Linked DNA regions of Homo sapiens. The protein of the gene in region 1 purifies or fractionates together with the protein of each later gene. This does not show direct contact. Each region holds a gene or a part of one and is shown on either strand. Other genes may lie near its edges.

Evidence for each region.
Region 2: the proteins of SLC23A2 (region 1) and POR purify together in Homo sapiens (affinity purification with mass spectrometry; one large-scale study listed by BioGRID and IntAct). This does not show direct contact.

What each region holds. Positions count from the first base shown.
Region 1 is NC_000020.11:4,851,612-4,855,406, reverse strand, and holds the end of SLC23A2 (solute carrier family 23 member 2), read left to right. Parts: 3' UTR 1-3,049; downstream 3,050-3,795. UniProt on the Homo sapiens protein: Sodium/ascorbate cotransporter. Mediates electrogenic uptake of vitamin C, with a stoichiometry of 2 Na(+) for each ascorbate.
Region 2 is NC_000007.14:75,981,155-75,984,254, reverse strand, and holds part of POR (NADPH--cytochrome P450 reductase), read right to left. Parts: coding exon 3,083-3,100; intron 2,739-3,082; coding exon 2,649-2,738; intron 2,032-2,648; coding exon 1,933-2,031; intron 736-1,932; coding exon 619-735; intron 518-618; coding exon 399-517; intron 1-398. UniProt on the Homo sapiens protein: This enzyme is required for electron transfer from NADP to cytochrome P450 in microsomes. It can also provide electron transfer to heme oxygenase and cytochrome B5.

The sequences.
Region 1 (3,795 bases):
CTTCGGTGGCCGTTGGCCTGGTCGAGCTTTGGTCAGCTGCGTGGGTGCCTGTCTCCTGTCTCCAGCGGCAGGGCATGGTTCTTGGCAGCCTGGTGTCCACACGGTGCATTCCTGTCCCCCTCGGCCCCAGGCTGGCTCAGCTCTCCAGTGCTGCGGCGCTGTCTTTGCAGCATTGCCATGTCACCGTAGCCCCCTTCACTCTTGGAAGTTTGGGGCTTCAAGGTTTATTCTGGCAAGAACACCTCGGAGCCACTGCATTGTTTTGCCAAAAACTTACTGCAGATTAAGTAAAGAACTTAGATGCTAAATTACATCTAATTTTGTATGTTTTTTTAAATGTGTCTTTGATGCATACTTTAGAAGCACACTGGCTCGCGGTTTCCATCCCTCTTGCCTTGGGACACTCTTGAGGCTGGCAGCCCTCCTGCAATGAGTTGCTCTCAGTTCCTTCTGTTTGGATTTTGCTCAACATCTCCAGTTTCTCTGCTCTGAAAAATGGGGAAAACTGCTAAACATCCCAGAGATTTGCAATCTTCTAGCTCTCCAGGTGAGCAGAAAGACCAAATATCCAAATAAAAGCCTGAAAGCCATTGGTGATCCAGGGGCACCTTCTCTTCAGCTTGACTGGGCGTCTTCCGCTGCATAACACTCAAGGTGTCTGCTCTAGTCATCCAGAAACCCACTCCCTTCTGAAGCCCCTCCTTGGGCCGGGTTGTATCAGGAGGATTCAACCCCGCTAACATGTGGGGTGCCCTCTGTAGGCCTTCACACAGGGAAGGAAGCCCTACCCTTTCAACTCCTGTTGGAGTGAGAGTTTCCTGTTCTGATTCCACTGTGGCCAACCCAATAATTCTGTCCGAGGAGGGGTAAGGGAATAGGAGGTGGGGAGCAAAGAGGGCAGCCTGACTAGATGCCCCTGCTGAATCTGGTACTTTCTGCACAGCCTTGAGTGATTGGAGTCCCCTAATGACTAATAAACTTGAACATGTAACACACACACACACACACACACACACCATTTTAGGAAGTGGTTCTCCTACTGGAAAATATGCTACAGAATGAAAGTTTGTAATTGAAAGAAAAAGAATGTATTCATCTGCTTCTTGGGTTTAAGCACACACCTGAAGGGGAGATATTGGGGGACACGGTGGCCACTCGCGGTCTGTGTCATGACACTTCCCATTCACATCATTGGCCTGCGTTGCTGGGGCTTTGAACCACCACCCCGTACTTTGTTTTGCCTGTAGAGTGTTGTAAAATATTTTGGATGTGAATGTCCTTGCAGGCCGGTTAGTCTCCAGTTTCCACAGAGACCACCTACCCACCACCTTCCCAGGTCACCTGCCTGGTCCCTGAAAGAAAGCATTTGTGTGGGCAATCCCAACATGAAATGTAGACAGCGTGAATACGGACAGGAGGTGATGCCATATTCACAGTGGGGGATGGAGGGCCCCCACCCCTGCTTCACAGAATAATGGGAAGTGACTCTAGTCTTTGTAAGCAATTTTCATTCTCATTAGGAAGTTAAATGTAGATTCACAGATACATTTACTTTCAGAATCCTCAAGAGGATTTCAAATGCTAACTTTTAGTTTCTTGGGATTGATCAAGGCAAGAGAAGTGGCTTTAACCATGCCAGCCAGAATGAAGCATCATGGGTCCTGATGGTTTCCCGTTTTCATGGTAACAAATTCGCACAGAGGTTTTGCTTTATGCTGTAGAATACCGACTTTCATGATGACAACTTGGTTTATGCATGAATATTGCAGTATTTCCATATAGCAAAATAACATTTCTACCCAGGATAATAGTCACAGTTTTCCAGGGAGGGAATGATATAATTTTCATGACAATGTCATGTGATGATAGAATTTCTCCATTGATGAATCTCTAGTATGTGTGTATACTTTATTTACCCATACGTATATTTTATGACCATGAGCTAAGTTGTTATTTCTTTCATTCATATCCCTGCTGAAATATTGGTACTAGCAACTTAAAGTTGGCAAGTCTCATCTTCAGTAATACGGATGCCATGGGAGTGGCCAGGCCAGATTGAAGGTGAATATGGAGCAGTAGCAGAAGCCTCATTCCAGAACCCATCTGGCCAGAGAAGCAGCAGCATCCTGGGGGATGGCCGTGCATGGGGTGTACACTCGCTATAGGCATAGGCCCGGCATGGCTGTCGCTGGACGCCAGCTGTGCACACCCAGCCACACCTGCTGCACGCCGCGTTAGTGTGCGGCTCCGGGCCTGAGCATTCGCAAAGCTCGCTTCTCCAGGGAGCCTCCTCTTGGCTTTGGAAAAGAGCCCAGGGACTTAACGTGCTGCCTGTTGTACTCTGTCCCCTCATGACTTTTTAGACACAGGGACTAGGACATCGACCACCCTCTGCCCCTCCTGCAGTCAGAACCCGAGTAGTGCAAGAACGGCCACCCGGTTTTGCCAGCGTTCAGCGTCTGCCCATGGACCCATAAGGCACATTAGCGTTGGGGGTCTCTTTTCAGCAGCCTCACAGACATTCCCGTCCTTTCTGGTTGGTGTTGACTGTGTTTCAGCATCACTCTACCCTCCCATGTCCTTAGCATTGCTGTGCGTGTTTCCAGGCACTTAGGACACCCTTCCCCACGTTGCCATCTTACTGACAGTTCAAATGACTCTCCTTTTTTGTTCGTTAGTAACAATCTTCATTTGACACCTTAATACATTTCTGACTGTTCTTAAAACAGTGGGGATGCCTATATTTTCCTTGAGTTTTTGTGACTGACTTTGGCTATATATACCTTTCTGGGGTTTTGTTTGTTTTTTATTTTTATTTTGATTACCGAGGGTATTTGGGGTGGGGTTGTTTTTTGAGATGTGTAATTCTTTTATGGAGTTTTTAAAAAGAATTTTCATATTGTTTTTCTAACATGGCTTCATTAAACGTTTAAGTATTTTAAAAATATGTAATATTTGGACCAGATGTTGTGAATAATAGTAGAGATAAAGCTATTTTATTCTGTATTTTTAAAACTGTTCCGTACAAATAAAAGCTCTCCTGGACACAGTTTTGCTCTTCACGTGCCTCCTTCTTGGGCTACTCTTTAAGAAAAGAGTCATCCCTCAGAATCTGTAGGGGATTGGTTCCAAGACCTCCTCGGATACCAAAATCCGAGACTACTCAAGTCCCTGATATAAAATGGCATAGTGGGTCAGGCACAGCGGCTCACCCATGTAATCTCAGCACTTTGAGAGGCCAAGGCGGGAGAATTGCTTGAGGCCAGGAGTTCGAGACCAGCCTAGGCAACATAGTGAAACCCGCCCCCCCCGCCCCGCCCCTTCACTAAAAAAAATTAGGCACACATGGTGGTGAACGCCTGTGGTCCCAGCTACTTAGGAGGCTGAGGTGGGAGGATTGCTTGAGCCCAGGAGTTCAAGACTGCGGTGAGCCGTGTTCGCACCACTGGACCCCAGGCGAGGTGACAGAGTAAGACTGTCTCAAAAACATAAAATGGTGTTGTGGATTTTGGTGTAGTGTATGTGTACATGGATATGGTGTAGTGTATAGATTTGGATATAATCTATGCATATCTTCCTGTATTCTTTAAATCATCTCTAGAGGACTTATAATATCAAATACAATATAAAGGCTATGTAATACTTGTTACACTGTATTGTTTCTATATTTGCATTTTTATTGTGTTGTTTTTATTGTTTTTTATTTTCAATCCTCGGTTGAATCCAAGGATACAGAAGCCTCAGGTACAGAAAGCCGATGGTAATTAATTAAAAGTTGTCACCTAGGGGAGGAAA
Region 2 (3,100 bases), on another chromosome or scaffold:
TTGGGGGCCTGGGAGGGCTGCTGACTCCTGACTTCAGTGAGGAGGTGGGGGCAGCCCCAGGCCGGCAGAGGTGGGTCGTGGAGCCAGGCCCTCCTTCCCAGCAGGACACAGTGGCCATGGGGGAGCCAGGGCTGCCTCTGCCACCAGGCCTCAGCACCTCACTCCCTTAAAGGACTATGACAGTGACGGGGTAGGGGGAACCCCGACAGAGAGGGCTAGACCCCTAGGGCCACCCCGCCTCCCGTTTGCTTGGGATCCTGTAACCGTGGAGTCTCGGTGCAAGGGCCTCCCAGGCACCGGGGCTTCAGGCCTAAGCAGAAGCTCAACCCAGGGCCTTCCTACAGGCCCAATCCCGCGGCTGCCTGAGCCCGGCAGGGCGCCCTGACTGTGGCACTCACCATCCAGGTTGTTCAGGGACATGACGACGTCCAGGTCGGCACCCAGGATTTTGCCCAGCTGGTTGACGAGAGCAGAGTCGTTGGCTGGGTACACAGCCACGTGGTCCCCAGATTCATACCTGGAGGGAGATGTGAGGCTCGGGAGGGGCGGAAGGCTGGCCCTGCCCCAGGTCAGGAGGCCCAGAGTGAGGGTTCAGGGGGTGACAGTGGCAGCTGGTACCTGATTTTGGAGTCCGAGATGTCCAATTCCAGGTGCATGAGGTGGCGCTCGGTTCCCTGGTTCAGCTTCCGGTTGGTGGTGACTGCAGCCAGGAACGGATTCTTGGCATCAAAGGGGCTGGGTGGGGAGGAGAGAAGCACAGTGAGCGGCCGGGGCTTTGATCTGAGTCTCCGTCTCCAAGGACGCTTCTGGTTGCACAAAGCACAGGGAATCTCAGAGATCTCCATGAGGAAATCTCACCGGTTACATCAAGGGCTCTCCCAGCCTGGTCCAATGCAGTTCTCTTTTTTTTTTTTGAGACAGAGTTTCGCTCTGCCACCCAGGCTGGAGTGCAGCGGCGCGATCTCGGCTCACTGCAACCTCTGCCTCCCAGGTTCAAGCAATTCTCCTGCCTCAGCCTCCTGAGCAGCTGGAATTACAGGCATTCGCCACCATGCCTGGTTAACTTTTATATTTTTACTAGAGACGGGGTTTCACCATGTTGGCCAGGCTGGTCTTGAACTCCTGACCTCAGGTGATTCACCCACCTCGGCCTCCCAGAGTGCTGGGATTAGAGCTGTGAGCCACCTCGCCCAGCCCTAATGCAGTTCTCTCTATAGTCCCACCACATGGGCAGAGCTGGGTCATCAGTGTCTGTTTACAGATGTGGAAACTGAGGCTGGCCCCTAAAAGAACTGTGAGGCCCAAGCTGACGGTGCCACAGGCTGGAAGGTGGCTGGTCCCCAAATGAGGAGCACAGCTCCCCCACCCCCACACGTCCTGGACTACACCGTGGACAAGAGAGAAACTTGCACTCCGGAAAGCCACCGACATGCAGGGCTTCTCGCTCCAGCCAGGCTGGGGCAGGCCTACAGAAAGCAGGGCAGCTGGTCTTGGATGCAGTGGCACGAGGACTTCCCTGGGTGGCTCGGGCAGGAATCTGGGCAGCAACCAGGGGCCATCAAGGGCACAGAGAGGAACGCCAGGTTTCTCCCCCAAGTCTATCTATGGAGATAGATTCTAAGAAAATGAGCCCTTCTGCCAAAGAGGATCCTAGCCACAGAGGCCAATGCACTGTCCTAGTCGAGAAGTGGGATGTGCCCCGCTGCCCTGGGCAGTGCAGAGTAAGGTGGCTAAGTGAGCTCAGTACAAACTGGGCGAGTGCCAGTCTCCTGGGGCCGGGCCGTGGACAGGTCGTGGACACTCACACCCACTCGGGGCACGGGGTCTGGTGAGAAGGGCCCTGTGGGGATATGGGGATACACGGCAGACTGAGCCTGGGGTGCACCAGTGGCCATAGAGCCGTCTGCCCCAAGCCACGCTCCCTCCACTCACGGCTTCTGGTTCTCGTAGCTCTTCAGCCGGCCCATCTCCCCCATGTACACCTTGGCCGCATCTATGTCGGTGTGGACCACAAGCTCGTACTGGCGAATGCTGGAAAGGGGAGACCAAGGGTGAGGCCGGGAAGCGGCAGGGGTCAGTCCCGAGAGGGAGGGGTTGGACTACAGGGGAGACCGTGCATGGCCTTTGGGGTGAGGTCCCAGGTACATACGACAAGAAGCAGGGGAGCCCCTGCTGCAGATGCACAAGGAGGGCAGGCGAGGGAGCAAGGAGGGAGGCGGCGTGGAGCTGCCGGGGGCCAGACGCCCAGAAGCCGGGGCAGGGCTGGGCAGGCTTCCATCTGGGAGAAGGTAAGGAAGCCCGGGCAGCACCCAGGGGCCATCAAGGGCACAGAGAGGAACGTTATGTTTTTGGCCAAGTCTGTGGAGGCAGATTTTAAGGAAATGAGCCCTTTTGCCAAAGTTGAACCTAGCCACAGAGCCCGACGCGATGTGTCCTTGTCGAGAGGTGGGATGCACCCCGCTGCCCCAGGGCAGTGCAGAGCAACGTGGCAGAGTGAGTCCTTGGCTGGGACCAAGGTCCCTCCTCGACCCTATGACGGAGTGTCTTCTAACCTTGCTGCGACCCACTGCCAGCCCTTGTTCCAGGGTGGCTGCCCTCGGCACAGGACCCGCCCAGGCCACCCACCGCACCTGCGGGCACTTGCTCACCTGGACTCCTCGCCAGTGGCTTCCACCCCAAAGTGTTCACACACGGCCGGCCAGAACTGCTCTCGCCAGGTGATGAAGTCCTCCTCCAAGCTGGGCCGAGGAGAGGAGAGGGGGAGCGGCTCAGGGGAGGCCCATGTGGCAACGGTACCTGGTGCCAGGCACGCCCCGACCCCACCCCATCCCCAAAGCTCAGGACTGTGCACCCTGGGGCACCCAGCGACATAAACCCAGAGCATCAGGAAGGCTCCAGGGAGTTGGGCAAGCCGAAAAGCAAAACTGGCAGGGGCAGGGCAGAGGCAGGAGAGCCCCTTCCCTCTGTGTTGGAGGTGCGTGTCGCTGAGTCTCAGCTGACACAATGGTGTGCGCGCCCCTCACGTTCCACGGCCCCTGCCTAAGCCCGCCGCGCTGATCATGGTGGCAGGGTGGGCACTCACTTCCCATCGTCGTCGCCC